Linked DNA regions of Homo sapiens: regions 1, 2, 3, 5 and 6 are each reported to be linked to region 4. The links are microRNA targets in miRTarBase. Many come from high-throughput screens and were not tested one by one. Region 4 holds a microRNA gene; each other region holds the end of a gene's coding sequence.

Region 1 (4,084 bases), not on the chromosome of region 4:
GCTAGGACTACTATTTTTTGTAGAGATGAGGTCTGGCTATGTTGTCTCAAACTCCTGGCCTCAAGCGATCCTTCCACTCCTGCCTCCCCAAACACTGGTATTACAGCCATGAGTCACTGCACTTAGCTTCGCCTTTTTTTTTTAGAGCACTTTTAGGTTCACAGCAAAATTGAGGGGAAAATACAGAGTTCCCGTATATTCCCTTCCTCCATACACTCACAGCTTCCCCCATAATAAACACTTCACACCAGAGGTCTACAGGTGTTACATCTGAGGAACCTACACTGACTCATCATATTTGCCCAAAGTCTACACTTTCAGTTGTCTTGGTGTTGCACATTCTATAGGTTTTGACAAATGTATATGTACCCACCATTATGGTGTCATACAGAACTTTGGGTGATTGTAACAAATGTACCACTCTGGGGGAGATTGAGTATGTGGGGACAGGAGGTATATGGCAACTCTGTACCTCCTGCTCAATTCTGCTGTGAATCTGAAACTGTCTAAAAGTCATCCAAAAAAAAAAAAACAAAAACCCAAAACTTCCACATTCAAAACTTATCTGACTTGTTCAACTTTTAGAGAAAAAAGACAACCCTTCGTGGTTATTTTTTTTGTGTGTGACAGAGTCTAGCTGTCGCCCAGGCTGGAGTGCAGTGGCACGATCTCAGCTCACTGCAACCTCATCCTCCCGGGTTCAATTGATTTTCCTGTCTCAGCCTCCTGAGTAGCTGGGACTACAGGCGGGTGCCACCATGTCCGGCTGATTTTTTGTATTTTTAGTAGAGACGGAGTTTCACTGTGTTAGCCAGGATGGTCTCGGATCTCCTGACCTCATGATCCGCCTGCCTTGGCCTCCCAAAGTGCTAGGACTACAGGCGTGAGCTACTACACCCGGCTGGGCCTTCATGGTTATTAAATGTAAATACAACGGGGCCAAGCTCAGTGGCTCATACCTGTAATCCCAGCACTTTGGGAGGCCAAGGCAAGCAGATCATTTGAGTCCAGGAGTTCAAGACCAGCCTGAGCAACATAGTGAAACCCCGTCTCGACCAGAAAATACAAAAATTAGCCAGGTAGTCCCTGCTACAGGGCTGAGGTGGGAGGATTGCTTGAGCCTGGGAGGTCGCGGCTGCAGTGGGCCAAGATGGCACCATTGCACTCCAGCCTGGGTGACAGAGCAACACCCTGTATACCGTATACAACTGCTTAGATATGTACATGATTAGTGACAAGAGGGATCCTCCCTTGGTAATAGAAAATTTGGGCTAGGCATGCTGCATCCCAAACTGATGAACCGAAACTGCTACAAATGGTCTCTACCAACACATTCCCACGGCTAAGTACGAAGAACAAGGGCGAATGGTCAGAATTAAGCTCAAACCTAGCTGAAGCACTCAACATTGATTCATTCCTTGGACCAATTACTTGCTAAATCTCTATGAACTGGTATCTTATTTGTACAATGAGGTTGCTATTTTAAAAATTAATGTTACCAGCTGGGCCCAGTGGCTCAGGCCTGTAAACCCAGCACTTTGGGAGCCCAAGGCAGGTGGATCGCTTCAGGTCAGTTCCAGACCAGCTTAGCCAACATGGTGAAACCCCGTCTCTACTAAAATACAAAAAAAATTTAGCTGGGTATGGTGGCAGGTGCCTGTAATCCCAGCTACTCAGGAGGCTGGGGCAGTAGAATCACTTGAACCCGGGAGGCGGAGGTTGCAGTGAGCCTGGATCGCATTACTATACTCCAGCCTGGGCAACAGAGCAGGACCCAGTCTCAAAGAAAAAAAAAAAAAAAAAGTACGTTACTTAAAAATGCCTGGGATATAGGAGTCCAAATAATGTTAGCAGTAAAATAAAACCAGTATTTTGTTTCCTTGAAAAAAATACATATACAAATCTCAACTAAGTCCAAAGTGTCAATAACATTTTGATGATGTAATTATTCAAACTTTTTGAGGTTTTCACTGTCACACATGCTGGAGTGCAGTGGCACGATCATAGCTCACTGAAGCCTCGAAGTCCTGGGCCCAAGGGACCCACCCTCCAGCCTCAGTCTCCCAAGTAGCTGGGTCTACAGGCACACATCCCCACACTCAGATACTTTTTTTTTTTTTTTTTGAGACAGAGTCTTGCTGTTGCCCAGGCTGGTCCGACCTCAAGCTATCCTCCCATCTTGGCCTCCCAAAATGTTAAGATGACAGGTATGAGCCACCATGCCTGGCCCAAAATTTTTCTATTTTTAAAAACTCACAGCACAAAAACTGTAGAAAAGAATATTTTATTGAAACAGTTTCTCAATTAACAATGGAGCAAAGTACAATTTGACTCAAACCTGTCCAACCAGCATCAACAGCTACTGAAAGAATTCAAACATACAGAAGAGGTGGGGGTGGGGTGAGGGGTGGGACCCTTAGGTCCCATCTCTGCCAATGTGGCAAAAAAAAAAAAAAAAGGAAAAGACAAAATGACTGACACAGCCAGGTTCATTCTTGTCTTGGAGCTGAGGCAGCAGCCCTAGCTCCTGCTACAGACGGAATACTGGAGGACGGGCTCCCTAGGCGTAGGTATGGTGGGTCGGGGGCCCCCAACCTAGCAGAGTGATGCACAGAGGAAGGCCAGCCCTGACCCTCCTCCTTCATCCACAGGCCTGCCTCAGAGAGAGGGAGGTGGCATCTCTACATTCACACCATGGTCTCTCCTTTCCCCAGGATCTTGGGATAGGGACTCACAGTAGAAAGCACATTTTGGTCAGCCCAGGGGGTCAGGGGGTGAGGGAAAGGCTCTGTCTGGGAGGAGCAGAACAGCAGAAGAGAGGAGGAGGCAGGGAGTTACAGGAACCTGGGGTACCAGGCTGCTGGGAAGATGCAGATTATGACAGAGCTTGCACGATGCTGGCACCCCATGCCAACCACTCTACGTGGCTTTCCTCTTCGGAGAGGTGGTGGGCTCCCTTCTTCACTGTGCCCCTCCCTCCTCTGGCCACTAGGGGTGGGAAATACGAGTGAGAATCCTTCCAGATTTACTTCCGCCAATCCAGAGGTACAGGCTTTTAGGCAAGGGGCAGAGAACTGCCCAATTTGCTGCAGGAAGCCAAGGAAACCCAGGGGGAAAGGAGCTGGATGGGAATGGGGAAGGGAGGCTCAGAGCAAGAGAAGCCCGCAGAGGGAGGAAAGAGCACAGATAGGCACTCAGAAACCAAACCTGGTAACTGAGGCTCTGCAGACACTGGCCTGAAAGGATGCTCATCGCATGGTGGGAGAGGAAGGGAGGGAAGGAACAATCACCAGAGAAGAGTGGAAACTCCCCAGCAACCTGATACCCTTCCCATCACCGGGACCCATCAGCCACTGGCAGCCATTCTCTTCCTACCCACAGGCAAAGGATTCAGAAATTAATAGTGATTTTTCCCAAATTTAGGGCCTATATGGGTAGGGAACAGGGAGTGGGGCTGGGGAGGAGAACAGTTTCCATTTTTAACCACAGAGGTACTGCAGAAGGAACCAGTGAGCTGTCCCTCCCTTCCCCTTCTCCACACCTCCAAATCACAGGGGTGAGAAAGGAACTCCAGCCGAGGGCAGGACCAACCCCTCCCCCAACCCTCGATGTTAAATAAATAGAAGTGGTGGGGGAAGGGGGTGGAGATGAATGGGGAAAACAGAGGTGGGGGTTATAGTTCGTCGTTCTTCAAAGGCCGCTTCTGTCCTGTCGATTGTTCTTTCTGTTCAGGTTCTGTTGGGAGTTTGGGGGAGCAAAGGAATCACCGCAGGTGAAACAGAGGAACCAACCCCAGTTCTTTGCAAAGGATTTCCTGAGACCCCACCAGGCTTCCCACCGTAGCCCCGGCTCCATCCTCACCTGCTCCAGGACCTCCTAACTCCAAAGGCTCAGTGTCTCCTGGCTCGGATCCTGCTTTGGGAAGAAACAGGTTAGTCTCCTCAGAAGGGAGGAAGAGGCTAAGGGAAGGCTGGGCCAGTTTTTCCATGAAGAGCCAGCTAGTAAATATTTTAGGATGCATGTACCACATTTGGTCTCTTTGCCTACTCTGTTTTTTGAGACAGAGTCTCTGTTGCCCAGGCTG
Region 2 (4,105 bases), not on the chromosome of region 4:
GTACTTTGCTTTTTGCATTTAATATATCTTGAAAATAACTATACCGATTCATAGAGATCTTCCTCATTTTTTTTATAGCTCAATAATATTCCATCATGTGGGTATGCCATTGGTGCCATGGTTTACTCAGGCTTTCTCGTGTATATGAACATGACTTTGCTTCCAATATTTGCAGTCTCAGTGCTGCAATGAGTAATCTTGTGCATCTGTATGTTTGTACTGTTGGAGGTGCATCTTCAAGGGAAATTCCCACAGTGGAAATGGTTGTGTCAAAGGGTAAATGCTTCTGCAATTTGTTAAGTACTGACAAATTCCCCTCCAGAAGTCATACCAGTTTGCATTCCTACCAACAGTGATGACAGTGTGTTTCCCTATAGCCTTGCCTAACAGAAATGTGTTGTTCTTTCTTTCACCAGTCTTAGAGATGATAAATGGTATCTCAGTATTATCTCAATTTACATTTCTCTAATGAGTTAGTTTGAATATTTCATTTTAAAGAGCCATTTTTATATCTTTACGTGAGTATGTTCATGTCTTTTCCCAGTTTTTCTATCAAGTTTTTGGTCCTTTGTCCCTTAATTTTTAATTCCTTATATAGTAAGAACACTAACTGTTTGTCTATTATATAGGCTGGATAAATTTTTCTCCCAGTCATTTGATTTTATTGTGTTTTTACTAAGCATTTTTATTATCTTCATGTAGTCAAATGTGTCAATATTTTGTTGCCACTGGATATTTCCACCACGTTTCCTTCTGTATTTATATGGCTTCATTTTCTTACATTTGGATCCTGGATCCAGATGGAGTTCATTCTTGCATATGGTGTGAAGTACAGGTCTAACTTCAACTTTCTCCAAGGGGCTTTCCAGTTGGCTCAGCACCATTTATTAAAGTCTGCTTTGACCTGCGATTGAAGATGCCACCTTTAACTCCTCATCCCCCACCCCTAAGAAACCTCACGGAACATATGACCCAAGAGCAGAGCAGACATAAAAAGATTAACTGAGCTACTGAGATTCGGTCAAGAATGTGAACTAAAAATGAACTGTTGAGAATAAGGCTGGAAGATCCAACAGAGGGAAACGGCTGTGGAGGTCATTGCCAGGTGAGGTGTCAGATCCCCGGCATTGGGAAGTGGTCAACTCGTGGGTTGGTAAAAAGAATTCACCAACAACAGTATAGGTTTGAAAAAGGAAAGGTATTAGAAGAATGCTGCAGAAGACTGCCATGGGGCACCTCGGTGAGAGGACTGAATGTACCACGGTGGATTTTTCCTTAGGGATATTTATGGACCTTAAAGCGGGACCGTGGGGTTGCAGTGAGTTTCAGCATGGCATTCCGGAGATGTACAGAAATTTTAGTTACTTCTAAGGTTTTTTTCGGGGAAAAGAAATCTGGAACCAGATGCCTGCTTTAGATAATAGGAAAGTCTAATTACTTTTAATTTTCCCCAAATAAGGCGTTTTGCCTCTGCATGGCCTGATAGTCACCAGGTGGTCTTTGCTCCCTTTTAAATTCCTCAGATAAAAAGATTTTGTCTCTGGGACCTGTTCAATGGTCACTAGGTGATTTTTGCTCTCCGCAGTCATGATGTGATGGAAAGCAAAATAGCAAACAAGGGAGCTGGATGGCGATGAAGCAGAGACAACAAGCAAGCTCAAGCTCCTGCAGAAGGGTCCGTCCCTGGAATCACCTCGGCTCACCTGTACCGTTCCAACAAACCCTTCCAACCAAAAGAGCCCCACCCCAAAAATGCTTTTGAAATCCTGAGATGTGATCAGTGAAATATGCAGCCAAGGCAAGGGGAAACTGTCCGCAAGTTAAAAAGATTTATTGCTATTCCAGGCTTCAAATGAGCCCAGAACTCAGGGCTGGTGTGTGTTTCAGAAGTTGTTATGATGTAACAGGGTGGTAGAAAAATCCAGGCAGTTTGATGTCGAGGCCACCCTCTCTTCCTTGGACCCCTGCTCCAAAAGCAGCTGCTGGTGAGGCTCTTTCCCATCTGCCTCATTCACCCAACAGGACTCCAAGACTGAGGCAGGCAGCCTTGTGATCCCCACAGCTCACAGGTGAGAGGCTGCTCATACCTCTCCTAGCACTGGAAGAGCCTTGTCCTTGGGACCGGACACTATGGCTTTGGCCCTGTGGAGGGAGAAACGGTGCCACAGGAGTTGTCTTAAGAGGACAAGGCATGCACGGTCTGAGATCAGAGGTTGTGACGTGGCCACCCATGAGCCAGTCCGTTTGGGACACATCACACTGCACAGCTTTTTAAAAAAATAATTAGCTGCCAATCTTTTAAAATGGTAAGATTTCATATACAAATCTGGATTTTTGGCTTCTCTAGGAGTAAACATTGAAACTTTTTTTTTGAGACAGAGTCTCACTCTGTCACCAGGCTGGAGTATTGCCAGTATCTGGCAGTTGTCTTCACAGACTGGCTATGCACTCTCCAACTGACTCCAGTCCTTGCCACCCTTAATTATATTTCCAACTGGAGACCAGGCCTCAGCAGCCTTGTATCAATGGGCACATGTGCTGTGACTTTCTGTGTAAGAAATATTTACATTGTAATAGCATCTTTAATCAAAAAGGAAAAATCGGCTGGGTGTAGTGGCTCATGCCTGTAATCCAGCGCTTTGCAAGGCCAAGGTGGACAGATCACGAGGTCAAGAGATCGAGACCATCCTGGCCAACATGGTGAAACCCCATCTCTACTAAAAATACACAAATTAGCCGGGCGTGGTGGCAGGGCCTGTAGTCCAAGCTACTTGGGAGGCTGAGGCAGGAGAATTGCTTGAACCCAGGAGGCGGAGGTTGCAGTGAGGTGAGATTGCACCACTGCACTCCAGCCTGGTGACAAAGTGAGATTCTGTCTCAAAAAAAAAAAAAGCGAAAAATCGAAATCAAGCCTGGAAGCAACATGTTTCTCACGGTTCTTATCAGTCATTTAAGTCTCTTGCTAGGCCCTGCGGGTACCTGAGTTTGTAAACAACAGAGCACTCCTAATATCTCCCCCAAGGGATTCCTCCCCCACACACCCTACCTCTCCAGGATACACTGCACCCTAGTATTAATTGGGCAAATCTAGAAAGGAAATAAAAATTAGTCACAGAAGTTAAGGGAGGAATAGACTAAGAGCAAATACTTTTGCCCCTTCATTGTAACAGGGGGCCGGAGGAGAACAAAAACGTTAATACTCTCACTTCGCTTTTAACTTAGTGACAAAAAAAAAAAAGAGTGAAAGAGAGAGAGTCATAAAGATTCTTCAGGTCCTAAAACACTCTGGTTCCCATTCCTTAACTGCTTTGGAAATGAACGAGGCTCTTTAGAGAGAATGTTAACGGGGATGAGTAACGTGGTCAGCCCAGCAGATGCCCTGGGCTATCAAGAACTGTCCAACTCATTCTCCCTTAGGTCAGGGCTGCTTGCCCCAGCCTAAAATGTAAGTGGTACAAAATGATTTTCAGTGAGGGTAGTGGACTCACTGTAGAAAGGGGATTAAAGGGGGGCAGAGAGTGGGAGTTTGGCCTTGGCAAACACAAAACAGAGGAAAAGGGACCTTCCTCACACCGCTCCATTCTGCTGTGGCAGATGCCATGTTATATGCCCTTTAGAGAGGCAGCGATCTTGATGCAGCCCAGACGCTTCCCACTGCTGCTCAGGACGCTCTCTATGCGGTAGTTCCCGGTGGTGAGCCAACTGGGCAGCTCCAGGTCAGGCACAACGAATTCGCTCTTGGGCAGTGAGTAGGTTCCCTGCGGGAAAGCCAGTGGACCGCCAGTCAGTGGGAGCCTACTGATGGGGTCTTTCTCCTAGAGCCACTGCTAGGATTGCAGCCATGAACTACCACCCCTCTTCCCATTCTCAAAACAGCCGCACAAGATGAGAGACGGCCATAGCACTGTAGAGCATGGATTATTATGGATAAAGGGCCCTGAAGATCACATCTAAGTTCAAGTCTCCCATTTCGTAGATGGATAACTGAGGCTCCCGGAAGATAAGTGATTCCTGATAGGTCACACTGGCTTACAAATCCAGAGACATGCAGATCTGCAGAAGGAGAATGCAAAGACCCTTCTCTCCAAACCCCATCTCTTTAGCC
Region 3 (4,105 bases), not on the chromosome of region 4:
AGAGGTTTCACTTTCGTGATTCAAAAAACATGAGGCGGCAACAGAAATACATTCACATACTTTACAAATGAGTTAAACAAGAGTATGTAGCTGCACTATTTATATTCGCCCAAATCGTAAGATGACCATCAAATGTAGGATGGATAAATGAATTATGGTACTCATGCAATGAACATTACCTGCCAGTGGCCAGGCGCTGTGGCTCACACCTGTAATCCTAGCACTTTGGGAGGCAGAGATGGGCGGATTGCCAGAGCTCAGGAGTTTGAGACCAGCCTGGGCAACGTGGTGAAACCCCGTTTCTACTAATAATACAAAAAATTAGCTGAGTGTGGTAGTGCACACCTGTAATCTCAGCTACTCGGGAGGCTGAGGCAGGAGAATCACTTGAACCCAGGAGGCGGAGGTTGCAGTGAGCTGAGATTGTGACATTGCACAATCTAACACCCACAGCCTGGGTGACAGAGCGAGACTCTGTCTCAAAAAAAAAAAAAAAAGAAAAGAAAATTACCTGCAAGTGAGAAGGAGCAAAATACATGTGCAACAATGTAATGTGATCTGTGTAATAATGTGATTTCCCTTAGGATGTGGCTGATGAAGAAATTGCTGCCCTCCCCCGGGATAGCTGTCCTGTTAGAATCAGAAATCGGTGTGTTATGACGTCCCGTCCGCGTGGTGTGAAGCGGCGCTGGAGGCTTAGTCGTATAGTCTTCCGTCACTTAGCTGACCATGGGCAACTTTCTGGGATCCAGCGAGCGACATGGTAAATGAGCTCCAGAACCTATTGAGCTTGCAGGGAAGCCAAGCTTGCAGTTCCAGCAAGCAAAGATTTTTTTTAATAGACCAAACCCTAATCTCTACAGGGGCCCAGTACAGTTGTTTGGCCTACCTGATGCTATCTCTAAACTACTTTTAAAATGAAGACATTTGGGTGTTTCATGTCAGTGAATTATCTTTTCTCTTGGACTTAACAAACATACTGTTCCCATACATAGTACAAAGAGTAGCATAATAAATATTTTCTGTGAATGTTTTTTATACCCTCCTTTTAAGTTTAATCTTTTAGTAACATATAGGGGTTTTTGTATTAAGAGCATTATTTCATAAAATGCTATCTTATACATAATCCAACTAATTGACATGTAGCTCATGTATGGCAGTTTGTAATCCTGGACTAGCTTTGCTGACCTGCAGAGCTCCCCTTAACTATTATTGTTAGATAAACAGATTGGATAGCAAGGCTGCTGTTCTGGATTATCTAATGCTCCACTTCTTCTTGTGATGGCTGAACAAAAGAACCACTAAGTGTTTTCTTGTCCATCCTTAAGGGACTTTAAAACAAATTATGCCTCTTTAAGTCCTTGAAAGTCTCCATCTAAAGAGGAAAAGTTTGTTGGAACAGTATATATTCCCTATTTTTATGTTTATTTAATCCATAACAGAAATGAGTAAGGGTAGCACAAAGTTCTCATTCAGTAACTCAACAGTGTGATCATCAGCCCAGTGATAAAAATATACATACTGAATGGAAGTACCTACTTAACATCAGGAAAATATTCCTGGAGAACTTAATAAATCAGGAGGTGAGGGGTGAGATTTTTTTCTGCACACAGAGGGAACAAAAGCACAAAGAAGCAAAGGCACTCTGTAGCATCAGAGAACCACAGTCACTTCAGTAGATCAGAAATATGAAGCACAAGACAAGGCCCGTATTGTGGAGGATCTCACAAATCATGTGAAGGAATTAAGACTGACATACCAGGTATTACAGAGTTTTAAGCACAGGAATGACATCATCAGTTTGTAATACAGGTAAGTGACAGCTGTGTGGCAGATGGCCATGAGAGGAAAAAGCTACAGGCAAGACAACCAGTTAGGAGGATGTCTTAGTTGTTGAGGAAGATGAAGGCCTGAACTAACATTGTGGTATTAGTAGAGGAGAGAGGACAGATTTTTAAAGTTTTAGGAAAGAAAATTGGGCAAGACTTACAAGACTGATTATATCTAAGAGGTAAAGATGGTTCTCTGGGTTCCTGATAAAAGTGTCTAGATAGATGGTAGAGGGCAATTCCAAGAGGGCAACTCCAAGATAGAAAATTTGGAAAAAGAACAAATTTAGGGGAAACAGAAGATAAGCGAGTTCAGGTTCCAGTCATGCGGTGTTGGAGATGCCTGTGTCATCTGATGAAGACTAGTACGCAGCTGGATAGCAGAGTCCGAAACTCAGGTGGAGGTGAAGTTATGAGGGAATTATCACAATCTAGTTTGGATTCATATTTCTTAAATATGTATGACAACTTACCAACTGGAATGTTCTAGCTAATATCTCAACTTAGAATCCATCTCACTACCAATGGGCAAACACTTGTGTTCTAAAGTTACTTGCAAGTAGTTTATACTGCCAACTTGATATATATACATGCTATAGTTTGAACATTTTGTGTACTTCCAAAATTCACATTAAAATCTAATCCACAATGCGTTGGTATTATTAAGAGGTGGGGCCCTTAGGGGTGATTAGGCCAGGAGGGCTCCACACTCATGGATGGGATCAGTGCCTTTCTAAGAGGGCTTGAGGGAGAGAGTTTGTCCCTTTTACCCTTCTGATACTGCGAGAAGGCACCGTACTGGAAGCAGAAAGCAAGCCCTTACCAAACACCAATCTGCTGGTGCCAAATCTTAGACTTCTCCAGCCTCCAGAAGTGCAAGAAGTAAATATTATTTATAAATTCTTAGTCTATGGCATTTTGTTACAGCAGCAGGAATAGACTAAGACAATGTGTTGATAGGTTTAGGGTCATGTTTTACTTTTTCAGTCATGTTAAATTTTAGATGGTTCTAAAGTCAAAACTCTAGAAAAAGTTAAATTCACAGAATAGCTTCCATCCTCATCTCCTTCCTTCCCCTGCTAACAATTTTTATTAGCTTTGGGTTTACTCGTTTCTTTTTGAAACATAAGCAAATACACCTATGTGCATACATTCACATTTCTCACCCTTTCTTACACAAATGTAGTGGGTATACCATAAATGTTCTGCACTTTGCTTTTCCACTTACTCTATCCTGGAGACCATTTTACGTTATATAGAACTCTTCATTGTTTTGTGACTTAAGTACTCCCTCATGTGGATGCACCATAATACATTCCTGTTAAATAGACACGAGTATTTTTAATCTTTTGCATATAGCATTCCAAATTTTTCTAAATGTACCTTTCAGAGCCCAGAAAGAAGTTAAAATTCTGGGTCAAAGGATAAATGAATATGTCATTCTGATGGTTATTACCAAATACTCTTTCTGAGACAAGAGTCTTACTCTGTCACCCAGGCTGGAGTGCAGTGGCACAATCTCAGCTCACTGCAACCTCTGCCTCCCGGGTTCCAGTGATTCTCGTCCCTCGGCTTCCCAGGTTCAAGTGATTCTTGTCCTTCAGTCTCCCGAGTAGCTGGAGTTACAGGCATCTGCCACCATGCCCAGCTAGTTTTTTTTATTTTCAGTAGAGACAGGGTTTCACCATGTTGGCCAGATGGTCTTGAACTCCTGACCTCAAGTGATCCGCCCACCTTGGCCTCCCAAGGTGTTGGGATTACAGGTGTGAGCCACTGCACCTGCCCAAATATTCTTGTTAACCAAAGTTTAACTTTTGCATTCCATTCCCATATATGTGTCCTTATTTCTCCACAGCCTCAACTCAATACAGTTGTTTTTATACTTCTTTTTCAAGTGAAAGGTAAAAACACTGGTTTATTCTCTTCTGAACAAGGTGAGCATCTTTACATGTTAAAGGTCATTTACATTTCTTTTTGTATGAAGTATTCTTAATTATTGGAATCCTGTCAATACATTGTTTGCCTTGGGTTATGGTGGGGTTTTTCTTGTCCTATAAACATTTTTATGTAGTTAAAATTGATCAATAGTTTTATTTATTTCTTCTAGGTTTTAAGTCACATATAATGTCGTTTTCCTCCATTTTCTTCTAGTATTTGTATGCTTTACTTTTTACAATTAGATCGTCAGGCGGCTTGGAATATATCTATATGCCTATTTTCAGTTATCTTAGTATCATTAAAAACCCATCTTTACCCCACTTTTACCATATTCTGTA
Region 4 (4,099 bases):
ATGGCGGGGCCTGGATGGCCCCAGCTTACACTGCACGCCTAAGGCGGATCTGGGATGGGGACCCAAGTCTTCCGAGGCCTGGACTTGCTGCCTCTCAAGGAATGCTCAGGAAGGGGGTCACACAGTCCTCGGTCAGGACAGATCACGTATCCTTTGCTCCTGAGCCAAAGCTATTTATATTTTGGCAGGAGGGAGAGGACAGAACAGTTGCAGTCTCAGCCCTAATCCCTGCAGCTGACTGGTGGCTGTTAGGAGAGTGTGGGGAGGCGGGAGTGGGGGCGGGGAGGTGCATTCCCCAGGAGGTTACTGTGACAGGCAGGGCCTAAGGAGGCTCTTGTCCCAGGGTGCTGTGCCTCTCTTCCTTTATTCTGCTGCTCCCATGGGCCATTCCCCCAGAGGGACCCCCTAAACCCAAGGAGAAAGGTCTTCTCAGTCCAGCCCCAGTCCTGATCTCCTGACCTGCCAGAAGGACAGGCATGTTAATGACATCTGGGGTTGCTCGACTTGCCTGCCAGGCTGGTGGCATCTCAAAGTCACATAGCAGGAGAGGACTGGTCTGGCCCCAGCACTCCTGTCTCTTACAGGCCACACAGCCCTGGGTGGGAAGCCTGGATGAGCAGTGAGTCACTCAAGCTGCCCTTCCAACCCTGCCACCACCAGCCTCATATTTCTGAAGTAGGCAGAGGGCAGGCTTTGGAATCAGGATGACAGGCTTTGAGACCTGCCCTGCCATTAGCTAGCTGTGGGAGCTTGGGCAAGTCACTGGGCCTCTCTGAGCCAATTATTTTCTCACCTGTAAATCTGGGAGATAAGCACTATTTGGAATGGCAGTAAATGGCACTCTTTCAGATTATGGATATTAATCATGCTGGATGCCAACGAGGAGGCTCAGTGGCTTCTTGGCCTTCCAGGGAAGGAGAGATGGTTGTGAGCCTCCATTGGTTGCTTGTTTGAGGAGAGGCAGTATGCAGAGTGGTTAGGAGCCCAGGCCCAGGAGTCAGAAGACTTGAATTTGAATACCAGTTCTACCACATTTCAGCTGTTTGGTCCTAGGCAAGTTGCTTCACCCCTCTGGGCCTAAATGGTCTTACCTCTACAGGGGGCTGAGTAATAATACTTCCTCAGGGCTGGGCGCGGTGGCTCGTGCCTGTAATCCCAGCATTTTGGGAGGCCAAGGCGGGTGGATCACCTGAGGCCAGGAGTTCGAGACCAGCCTGGTCAACATAGCGAAACCCCGTCTCTACTAAAGTAACTACAAAAATTAGCTGGGCGTGGTGGTGCACACCTGTGATCACCTGTGATCAGCTATTCAGGAGACTGAGGCAGGAGAATCGCTTGAACCCGGTAAGCAGAGGTTGCAGTAAGCCACGATCGCACCACTGCACTCCAGCCTGGATGACAGAGCAAGACTCCGTCTCAAAAAATATATATAAATAAAAAAATAATAAAATATAATACTTCCTCGGGGTGTGATAAGGATGGAATAAATGCTTTAATATATGCAAAGCACTGGCAGCAGGCCTGGCCTATCATTCGTGCTCAATAAACATTAGCTTTTGTTAGAGTTATTATTAAATCATTCCACCAAGAGTGGCACGCAGATAGTGGTAGAAGCCCCGGGCGAGGTTACTGCCCTTTAGAAGTTCCCAGGCTAATGAGGACGTGAAGCATGAACACAAATAATGAAGATACAAGGGAGAAAGTGGAGAAGGATGCTACCGAGGTGCAAAAATGGCACTGGGGATGGGGGGGAGAGATTGCTTCCGGCTTGGGGTATCAGGGATGCTTGCCCAAGGAGAGCGCTTATGAGAGCTGGGCTTTGAAGGATTTGGCTCAGAAGTCATGAGGGATGGGAAGGACATGCCTGGTGGAGGGGACAGAGTGAGGAAAGGCTGGGAGGGAGGAAATGAGATGCATCCTAGGGAAGAGCCCCAGAATGGTGACGAGCCCCAGCTGTGGAGTCAGCTGGCCCTGGGTGACCCTTGAACTGATTAGGAATTCCCGAAGAGAATTCACAGCTCCACTACTGACTAGTCGTGTTGCTTTATCTACAGAGCCTCAGTTTCTTTGTCTGTCCAGTGTGGGTGGTGACAATCTGGGGGGTCCTTGTGAGAGTCTAATGTGGTAGCATGCATGTGCCTGGCACAATGTTGGCACTCCGGGTTCGCAGCCGCTGTTAGTTAATGCCAGCACTCAGGCGGCCAGAGGTGGATGTAAGCCCTACATCCAGGACCTTGAAGGCCTAGGAGGAGCCATGGCAGGAGCCACGGGCACCTACCAGCATCCCTGGGGGTGGGCAGGGCTTGGTGCCGTGCTAGCATCTAACCCAGCCGCGAGCTTCCTTCTGCAGGTCCTGGAGCCCTGGCGTGGGGCGGGCCTCCTGCCGGCGAGCGCCTGCGCCCTTCCCTGGCGTGAGGGTATGTGCCTTTGGACTACATCGTGGAAGCCAGCACCATGCAGTCCATGGGCATATACACTTGCCTCAAGGCCTATGTCATCGAGGAGCCACCGGAGCTGCCACTGCCACCAGGGAGGAAGAGGAGGAGCCGGGATGTGGGATGGCAGTGGTGGGTGGGCTGCGGCAGGTTGGGCCAGCCACACCTCACTGCTTGACCGCTCTGACCCCCTTTCTTCTCTTTCCTAGGGCTACATTGGGCTCCCAGGGCTCTTCGGCCTGCCAGGGTCTGATGGAGAACGAGTAAGTTTGCTTCTTTGGTTATTCACCATCCACAGCCACCCCTGCCCAAACAGAGCAGAACCTGCCAGGCACCAGCCTGGGGAAGTCAAGGAATTCCTCCTGGAGGAGGTGCACTTGAGTCGAGTAGGAGTCTGATAAGGGGACAAGTCAAGGCAGATGCATTCCAGGCATAGGGAACAGCATGTGCGAAGTCAGGGATTTACGGTAACTTGGCGAGTTTAACACTCAACACTGCCAAAGTGCTGCGTGAGAGGGTGAGAGTGGTGGGAGTTGAGGCTGGAGAGGACCCTGGGGCAATGTCTTAGGTGCCCAGGACTAAGGTTAGAAAAGGAACTCTGTTCTGAGGGTATGCGGAGCCTCTTGAGGACTTGCAACCAATGAACACCGGGCCCACTTTATAATATAGATCAGGGGTCTGCAAACGGTGGCCCATGGGCCAAATCCAGCCAGTTGTCTGTTTTTGCAAACAGTTTTATTGAACTCAGCCTTGCTCATTTGGTTACATATTGTCAATGCCGCTTTCTCACTACAATGGCAGAGTTGAGTAGGTGTGACAGAGACCGTATGGCCCACAGAGCCAAAGATATTCACTATCTGCCCCTTTCCAGAAACCATCTGCTGATTCCTCTTTTAGACAGATCAGTTGGTTTACTTGAGTAAAATGTGTTGGTTGGGGGTGGGGACAGCAAGAGCAGGTGGCAGGAGTTCCAGCAGCCAGGGGGAGCGGCTGTCTGGGGAAGGTGGTGGGACTGGTTTGGTGGTGGGCAGTGGGTGCTAAGATTTCCTAAGACACCCTGTCCTTCCAGACCAAGTATCTAAGTCAGAGGAGTCCAAAAGATGGTGTGGGAGCTTCTCACAGACCCCTGGCCCAGCCTGGAGGTCCATTAGAAGCCCCTGGGGTGGTGGCCTCGGGATCTTCCTCCCCGCCCCCTCCCAACCTGAGCCCGTATCTATGGGAACTCACTTGTAACCTCCATAAGCTGGGTATAGAGAACCTTAGGACAGCTGGAGCCTGAGCATTTATGAAGCACCTGCTGATTACAGGAACTGGCATTTCTCTGTCTCTTAGGTCACCACAGACCCCGACCCTGCCATCCGTCTGATGTGCATGTCACTGGGGCCGCCACGCAAGTGGCACACATTCCAGGCCCTCTGTGACTTCCTGCCGTGGGTGGCTCTGGGCTGGTTTGGGGCAAGCCTGGCTGTCCCTGCTGGCATCCTGCCCTGACCTCTCCCCTGTCTCTCCCCTGCAGGGCCTGCCTGGCGTTCCTGGCAAGAGGGGCAAGATGGGTATGCCGGTAAAGATTTTCCGTGTCTATTACGCAGACTCTAGCGGGGAACCCCACCTCCCACGGCCACGCTGCCCTGGCCACCTGCTGCCTGGCATCTTCTGCTTCTCCC
Region 5 (4,000 bases), not on the chromosome of region 4:
ATGAATGCATGCATGCCTATTGAAGAACTAAAATGTTACTTGTAAAGTTCATTTTGAAAGAAACCAGATTAAGTTACTCAATGGAATATCGGCTTATCTTTTCCTTCCAGGAAATAAATGTGACCTCTGGGAAAAGCGGCACGTCCTGTTCGAGGATGCCTGCACACTGGCTGAGAAGTACGGCCTCCTGGCCGTTTTGGAGACATCTGCCAAGGAGTCAAAGAACATAGAAGAAGTCTTCGTGCTCATGGCCAAGGAGCTGATCGCGCGCAACAGCCTGCACCTATATGGGGAGAGTGCCCTGAACGGCCTCCCCCTGGACTCCAGCCCCGTTCTTATGGCCCAGGGTCCAAGTGAAAAGACCCACTGCACTTGCTAAGATGTTTGCAAAGCCAGTTGCACCCACCAAAGAGGCCGCCTCTGAAACCAAAGGTAGCCAGGATACCGTAGTGTTGCCCCAGTGGCGCTTTAGACCCCAGCGTGGACTTGCCGCTCACCCCTAATCCTCCCAGTCTGGATGGGCCACACTTCTCCCTTGACTCACACCACAGGTCATAGCTGCTGACTCTCAGGAAAACCAGCACCATTGTTTTCACTGACTCTTGACTCCTGGAGAAGGCAGGACTTCAGGCTAGGAGAGGGAGGACGAAGTGTACTCTTCTCCCCTTTCACTTTTCTGTCTCCCTAGAGCTTCTGCTGCTTTCTACTGAATTTTGTTTCTTGCTTGAAGAAGAGGGTAGTGAAGGAAAGGAGGAAGGCAAAACAGCAAGAGAGAGAAGAGGCTGTTTGGAACATTCTGGAACAGTTTGAAACAGCTCAGGCAGGGAGAATGGAACGAAAGCCTGCAATGAGAAACCAGAATGCTGCTATCATTTTGTTCCTGACATTCACACCTCAGGTCTTCACTTTGGGGAGCGAAGCCTTTTAGCAGAAATACCAGAAGTACCATCTTGCCAAATGGTCAGGAACTGTCTGATAGAGATGGAACTGGAATTCACTCTATTCTAGCAGGGCTGACTTGGCCACCCTCTTGGGATAGGGGAAGACACCTGCAATTTTTTTTCTTTCTTTTTTTTTTTTTTTTTTTTGAGACAGGGTCATACTCTGTCACCCAAGCTGGAGTATAGTGGTGGGATCTTGGCTCACTGCAACCTCTACCTCCTGGGTTCAAGAGGTTCTCCCACCTCAGTCTCCCAAGTGGCTGGGACTACAGACACACGCCACCACTCCTGGCTAATTTTTGTATTTTTTGTAGAGACAAGGTTTCACCATGTTGCTCAGGCTGATCTTGAACTCCTGAGCTCAGGTGATCTGCCCACCTTGGCTTCCCAAAGTGCTGGGATTACAGGCATGAGCCACCATGCCTGTTCTTTTTTTTTTTTTTTTTTTTTGAGACTGAGTCTCACTCTGTCACTCAGGCTGGAATGCAGTGGCATGATCTCGGCTCACTGCAACCTCAACCTCCACCTCCTGGGTTCAAGCAATTCTCCTGCCTCAGCCTCCCAAGTAGCTGGGACTACTGGCACTCACTACCACGCCCAGCTCATTTTTTTTGTATATTTAGTAGAGACTGGGTTTCACTACGTTGGTCAGGCTGGTCTTGAACTCCTGACCTCATGATCCACCCGTCTCGGCCTCCTAAAGTGCTGGGATTACAGGCATGAGCCACCATGCCCGGCCCTTTTTTTTTTTTTTTTGAGACAGAGTTTCGCTCTTGTTGCCCAGGCTGGAGTGCAATGGTGTGACCTCGGCTCACTGCAACTTCTGCCTTCCAGATTCAAGTGATTCTCCTGCCTCAACCTCCCTAGTAGCTGGGATTACAGCCTCCCGCCACCACGCCTAGCTAATTTTTGTGTTTTTAGTAGAGGCAGGGTTTCACCACGTTGGCCAGGCTGGTCTCGAACTCCTGACCTCATGATCCACCTGTCTCGTGGCCTCCCAAAGTGCTGGGATTACAGGTGTGAACCACCGCACCTGGCCTTTTTTTATTATTATTATTGTAGAAATGAAGTCTTGCTACGTTGCCCAGGCTGGTCTCCAATTCCTGAGCTCACAGGTTTCTCCCACCTCAGCCTCCCAAAGTGCTGGGATTACAGGCATGAGCCACCATGCCTGGCACAATTTCTTTCTAGAACCCAAATCATCTGCCAGATCAGAAGTCATTTTTAAATTAAAATTAAATTGGTTCATAGATGAATATCAAGCCAGTGTTGTACTGCCCCTTCTGTAAGATATGGCCAGAGAGCAGCTGGTGCCTTCTGGGATGGAGTAACTGCGGCTTTCAGAACTAAACACGTAAGAGGAGGCTGGAAGTCACCAGGCACCCCTCGTTTCCAGGACTGTGTTAGGGGACATCAGGGCAGGCAGCAGGAGCAGGCCACGGAGCCCCTCCAGGGTCCCAGGGAACTGTGGACACTCACCTGGGGCTTCCGGAGGACAAACACCACTTATGATTGCAGCTGACATTTACTGAGCTGCTTCTCATGGCCAGAAGTTGTGTGAGGTCTGGGGAAAGCAAATGGTCCCTTTGGTTTGTGATGCCAGTGGAGGGGAAAAGAGGTACCAGCCGCATTCTGCTGCTCCTCTTTTTTTTTGAGACGGAGTCTCGCTCTGTCACCCAGGCTGGAGTGCAATGGTGTGATCTTGGCTCACTGCAACCTCCACCTCCCAGGTTCAAGTGATTCTCCTGCCTCAGCCTCCCGAGTAGCTGGGATTACGGGGGTATACCACCACACCTGGATAATTTTTGTATTTTTAGTAGAGACAGGGTTTCACCATGTTGGTCAGGCTGGTCTTGAACTCCTGACCTCAGGTGATCCACCTGCCTCAGCCTCCCAAAGTGCTGGAATTACAGGCTTGAGCCACTGCACCTGGCCTGCTGCTCCTCTTAACACCCTTGGACTTCCTGGCATCCTCTCATCCAGCAGTAGCTCTCAGTTCCCCCTTTCCCTGCGCCACATTTTTTTTTTTTTTTTTTGAGGCAGCGTCTCACTCTGTTGCCCAAGTTAGAGTGCAGTGGTGTCATCTCAGCTCACTGCAACCTCCACCTCCCAGGTTCAAGCGATTCTCCTGCCTCAGCCTCCTGAGTAGCTGGGACTACAGGCGCATGCCACCACACCCAGCTAATTTTCTGTATTTTTAATAGAGACGGGGTTTCACCGTGTTAGCCAGGATGGTCTCGATCTCCTGACTTTGTGATCCTCCCCCCTTGGCTTCCCAAAGTGCTGGGATTACAGGCGTGAGCCACCGTGCCCAGCCCTTTTTTTTTTTTTGAGACAGAGTTTCGTTCTTGTTGCCCAGGCTGGAGTGCAATGGTGCGATCGTGGCTCACCACAACCTCCACCTCCTGGGTTCAAGCGATTCTCCTGCCTCAGTCTCCTGAGTAGCTGGGATTACAGGCATGTGCCAACACGCCTGGCCAATTTTGTATTTTTAGTAGAGACAGGGTTTCTCCATGTTGGTCAGGCTGGTCCCGAACTCCCGACCTCAGGTGATCCGCCCGCCTCGGCCTCCCAAAGTGCTGGGATTACAGGTGTGAGCCACCGCGCCCAGCCCCCTGCTCCACTCTTAGCATCTGGGTATCAGGGCCCCAATCACAGCCTATCTGCCTTTCAGTGAGAGGAAGGCAGTCTTTAGGGCTCTTTCCCTGGACTGGTCTTCTCCTTGGCCTTAAGTTATTCTCCTGCTCCTTTATACATTTCTTGGTCTGCAAGGAGTCCTTAGGTAGGAGCCAGAATTTAAATTCTGACCTTCGGAATATATCCATAAACTAAGCCAACCACAGAGAAGAAGAGCAAAGCTAGGAGACCTACGAAGCACAAGCCTCCTCCCGGTTCTCCACCATCATCAGGAAGCACTCTTAATTTTTCTCAGTTAAGGTGCCTTTTAGAAATTTCTTGTCTTGCGACAGAGTTTTCATTCTTTGTTGATTAGTCTATTCTTGAGGAATGGATCCATCAATCTGTTCAGTGTGTGTCCCAGAGCCGACTCAGGGCGGGCA
Region 6 (4,105 bases), not on the chromosome of region 4:
ACCACCTGGGCTCAAGTGATCCTCCCACCTTAGCCTCCCAAGTAGATAAGAGGAAGAGCCTTCCTCTTATCTTGTTGCTCTGCATGGTACCAATTCCCAAAGCTACTTCAGTATGGCTACTGAACTTCCAGCTGTCGTGTCTGCATTCCAAACAATAGGAAGCAAGAATGGATAAAGGGGAAAATGTACCCTTCTTGTAAGAACACTTGCAAATTGTATACATCATTTTCTCTACCATTGGCCACAATTTAATCATAACTGGGAGGGAAGCTGGGAGATGTCATCTTTATTTTCAGCAGCCACAACCCCAGCTAAAATACTGGAACATTCTATTTCTTTTTTTTTTTTTTGAGACACAGTCTCACTCTGTCGCCCAGGCTGGAGTGCAGTGGCGCAACGTCCGCTCACTGCAAGCTCCGCCTCCCGGGTTCACGCCATTCTCCTGCCTCAGCCTCCCGAGTAGCTGGGACTACAGGCGCCCGCCACCTCGCCTGGCTAATTTTTTTTGTACTTTTAGTAGAGACGGGGTTTCACTGTGTTAGCCAAGATGGTCTCGATCTCCTGACCTCATGATCTGCCCACCTCGGCCTCCCAAAGTGCTGGGATTACAGGTGTGAGCCACCACGCCCGGCCCTGGAACATTCTATTTCTTTCTTTCTTTTTCTTTTTTTTTTTTTTTTTGGGACAGACTCTGTTGCCCAGGCTGAAGTGCAGTGGCGTGATCTCGGCTCACTGCAACCTCCGCCTCCTGGGTTCAAGCGATTCTTCTGCCTCAGCCTCCCGAGAAGCTGGGATTATTGGCACACACCACCACACCCAGCTAATTTTTGTATTTTTAGTAGAGACGGGGTTCACCATGTTGGCCAGGCTGGTCTCAAACTCAGGTGATCTACCAGCCTTGGCCTCCCAAAGTGTTGGAATTACAGGCATGAGCCACCGCACCTGGCAGGAACATTGTATTTCTAGAGAGGAATCAACTATTGAAGAATTGGCACCTTCTCCCAAAGGAAGCGCTGGGGAAGTCAGTAGAACACAAAGAACTGGATGAAAGGGATGTAGTAGAATGGCATGAGCCTGCAACGGGCAGGGTTTTCTTTGAACTGGGTGAACAGTCTGGCAGTGGTACGAGGACCCCGACTCCCCAGCCTGGGGAAGATGAGATATGTGAGGTTGAGGTTTGAGAAGAAAAGCCACCACTTGGAGGGGCTGCAGAAGTGGCTCTCAGAGGATAGCTGGTTTTCCATGAAGGCAAGGAGGGAGCAGAGAGCTAGCCTGGAAGGTTCACCAGAGGGCCCTTGGGAGTGGGTGAGTGGGAATGGAGCTGGGTGGGGGTCAGCAAGGACAGGGTTATTTGGTTACTGGATGAAAACACGGATGAAAAGCCAGTGGACTTGGTCTTGATAGTGTCTGAGGAGGGTGGGTCTTACTTGGCCACTGCGACCCAAACCAGAAACTGCTCCCCCTTCAAAATCCACGAGTTTACTTATCACAGCCAACCAGGTTACCTCCCATGCCATCCTTTGACTTTTGCATCAAGCACTTAATAAACTTAATATCTAACCCTTGGTACCAGCCCCCAAATTGTATGTTCGATACTATAAATTTGAAAGACATACATATATCCTTTCCAAGGGTCAGGAAAGAACATTCAAATGTCAAAAATGATCCGGAGGAGTCCCATACTGCTCAGGGTAGGTCGCTTTGCAAAGCAATGAGAAAAATCTCTGAAATAGTTGTTTTCCCCATAGCCATCATTTAACATTGTTTCATTATTATCAGTTTTTTCTCAGGGTGGCTACTCTACCAGGAGCACACAGAAGTGCTCAGCGCCCCCACCCAGCTCTCCTAGCCCTCAGGGATCTGGGATTATAGTCTCCATTCTCAGGCAAACTCCTTTTATCAAGATGTTGAACATTCTAGGGAGCCAACTGACTTGAGGTGTACAACAGAACAGTCATGAGGAAGGGACCTCTATCCACAGTCCTGTGAGCAAAGGAAGCAACAGACAGCTGCCAGCACAAAGTCTCAACACACTGCCTCCAGGAAGTAAGACTGCAGGATGGCGGGAAGCAGATGTAGTATGGGTGCGCCCAGCCCCCCTCACCATCTGTGGACCCCAGGCAATGCAGTCAACCTTCATTCATCCTTTATTGAAAAGGCGGGGAGGGGCTATCAAGTCCTTTGCTGAATTTTAGTGAGAATTAATTCAGATACATACCAAATGCCTCACACATGCGTGGCTTGAGCTAAGTGTTATACACAGCTATTATTTTTAATTCTATTACACATAAACTCCCTGAGGCCGGTGACAGTGCTTTGCAATAATAACTAATCAACAACAGTCAATGCAGTAAGTGAAGAGTAGAATTCCAGCATACTAAAGGGTTAGGATCTAGGGATGAGAGCCCCAACCACCTCTATCAGAAACAGAGCTGCTGGGCCAGCTGTAGTGGCTCCCACCTGTAATCCCAGCACTTTGGGAGGCCGAGGCAGGCGAATCACTTGAGGTTAGGAGTTTGAGACCAGCCTGGGAGACATGGTGAAACCCTATCTCTACTAAAAATACAAAAATTAGCTGGGTGTGGTGGTGTGTGCCTGTACTCCCAGCTACTCGGGAGGCTGAGGCAGGAAAATTGCTTGAACCCAGGAGGCAGAGGTTGCAGTGGGCCGAGATCACGCCATTGTACTCCAGCCTGGGTGACAGAGTGAGACTGCCTCAAAAAAAAAAAAAAAAAGAGAGCTGCTAATTTAGAAGCAAATAACAGGAATGCTGGGTTCTGAGGCCAGCCCTAAGACAGCCAGAAACGCTGAGAAACTTCCACAAGCAACAATTCCTTACATTCAGTGCAGTGTAGCACTTCAAGAGAAATCCAGAAAGTTTCAGTTCCAGATGAGAACAATGAGGTGGTGAGGGGCTGATCTGCATACTATTGCTGAATTTGTCTGCACCCGCTAACCCCAATGATGAGAAAAGGGAGCGCAAAACATCCCTCAGAGCCAAGGAGGCAATTGCACACCGGTGATCACTGGGTGTTGTGAAGTGGGCAACAGAAGCCCCTGTTCGGACCTCAGGAGTCCTAACTTTTCCTTGTCGCTCTTTTCTCTGAACCACATGCTGTTTCCTGGGCTGAGAAAGGGCATGCCATGTTAGAGCAGAACTGAAAATAGACACAGCCACAGAAGGAACATCAGCAGGCAGATTATCGAGTCCGCTGAGATTTTGGCATTTTGGTCCTTGTCTGTCCAAGATATTTTTGGAAATAATATGGGGTGCTCCTGAAGGTCATGGGGGAGGGGGCAGGACCCACTTAGGTGAAAAGCCATGGGGCCCAGGTGAGCCCCTGTGGCCAGTCAGCAGCTCCCTTCCAGGGTCCAGTTTCGGGCATTGATAAAGAGCTGGAGCCAGGGGGAGGTGGTCAGAGTATCAAATGGAGGGGGTCGCCATGCCCACTGCCAAGGCCTAACGGCCCGCTCAGGGTGAGGCATGACAGCCAGGTGGCGGCCATCACAGGAGCAGATGCCAGCCACGCCCCCTGGGGACCCATTGGGATTCAGAGGGTACTGCTCTGTGGGGTTCCCGTCATCATCAGCCCAGTGCAGTGGAGCCAAGCCCCTGGCCTCAATCTGAGCTTGGAGTTCCGGAGAAGAAAATGCTACGTAACCTGGGATGGAAGGAGGAGGGAAGTGAGAGCCAAGGTCCTTCATGCCCACCCTTGCCCCCAACCCTCGGGCCCTCCCCCAGCCTTCCTTGGGCCTGACCTTCCCCGTGCGCACTCCACACGGGCAGCACGGCGCCCTCCATCCCTCGCAGCATCAGGGCTGGCCCAGGCCCCACACGCACGCTGGCCCAGCGAGACTCGTAGCGCCCAGACAGGTTGTGGCGTAGCAGAAGGCCTGGCCGGGCTGGCTGGGAGTCAGGGCCCATCTCTGCAGCATCCTCATTGGGGTCGCCTCCCACCCAGCCGAGCAGAGCCAGCAGTTGACAGCCATTACACACGCCCAGGCTGAAGGTGTCTGGCCGCTTCCGGAAGCGCCTCAGCTCAGCCCCAGCCCTGGGATGAAAGGTCACAGCAGCTGCCCACCCTAGCAGGGAATAGGGAAGTCA

What was found. The annotated mature microRNA hsa-miR-455-3p reads GCAGUCCAUGGGCAUAUACAC and lies in region 4 at 2,457-2,477, shown strand. An mRNA with a match to its seed (bases 2 to 7 or 8) in the 3' UTR can be bound and repressed. Matches are read on the target gene's strand: a 7mer-m8 pairs with bases 2 to 8, a 7mer-A1 pairs with bases 2 to 7 and ends in A, and an 8mer does both.
Region 1: the mRNA of HYOU1 is a reported target of hsa-miR-455-3p. The part of its 3' UTR that is shown has no 7-base or 8-base seed match.
Region 2: miRTarBase lists GM2A as a target of hsa-miR-455-3p. The part of its 3' UTR that is shown has no 7-base or 8-base seed match.
Region 3: miRTarBase lists MRPS14 as a target of hsa-miR-455-3p. The part of its 3' UTR that is shown has no 7-base or 8-base seed match.
Region 5: miRTarBase lists RAB19 as a target of hsa-miR-455-3p. The part of its 3' UTR that is shown has no 7-base or 8-base seed match.
Region 6: the mRNA of PFAS is a reported target of hsa-miR-455-3p. The part of its 3' UTR that is shown has no 7-base or 8-base seed match.

Annotation. Positions count from the first base shown.
Region 1 is chr11:119,041,920-119,046,003 of GRCh38, forward strand. It overlaps HYOU1 (hypoxia up-regulated 1), which reads right to left. Exons shown (of 26, transcript NM_006389.5): 25 at 3,862-3,912; 26 at 2,269-3,735. The coding sequence ends at 3,674. HYOU1-AS1 (HYOU1 antisense RNA 1) reads left to right here and starts at 2,269. Exons shown (of 2, transcript NR_186315.1): 1 at 2,269-2,826; 2 at 3,466-3,574.
Region 2 is chr5:151,266,949-151,271,053 of GRCh38, reverse strand. It overlaps GM2A (ganglioside GM2 activator), which reads right to left. Exons shown (of 4, transcript NM_000405.5): 4 at 614-3,758. The coding sequence ends at 3,603. Among named protein-coding and RNA genes, the nearest start is that of GM2A, 16 kb to the right of the region's middle.
Region 3 is chr1:175,011,331-175,015,435 of GRCh38, reverse strand. MRPS14 (mitochondrial ribosomal protein S14) reads left to right here. Exons shown (of 3, transcript NM_022100.3): 3 at 585-2,478. The coding sequence ends at 767. It overlaps CACYBP (calcyclin binding protein), which reads right to left. Exons shown (of 6, transcript NM_014412.3): 6 at 3,409-4,105. Among named protein-coding and RNA genes, the nearest start is that of MRPS14, 10 kb to the left of the region's middle. RefSeq lists a silencer at 2,577-2,777.
Region 4 is chr9:114,207,031-114,211,129 of GRCh38, forward strand. It overlaps MIR455 (microRNA 455), which reads left to right and starts at 2,404; the gene lies at 2,404-2,499. It overlaps COL27A1 (collagen type XXVII alpha 1 chain), which reads left to right. Exons shown (of 61, transcript NM_032888.4): 11 at 2,645-2,698; 12 at 3,952-3,996.
Region 5 is chr7:140,425,772-140,429,771 of GRCh38, forward strand. RAB19 (RAB19, member RAS oncogene family) reads left to right here. Exons shown (of 4, transcript NM_001008749.3): 4 at 111-2,203. The coding sequence ends at 379. Among named protein-coding and RNA genes, the nearest start is that of RAB19, 24 kb to the left of the region's middle.
Region 6 is chr17:8,268,511-8,272,615 of GRCh38, reverse strand. PFAS (phosphoribosylformylglycinamidine synthase) reads right to left here. Exons shown (of 28, transcript NM_012393.3): 27 at 3,760-4,083; 28 at 2,130-3,662. The coding sequence ends at 3,352. Among named protein-coding and RNA genes, the nearest start is that of RANGRF, 18 kb to the left of the region's middle.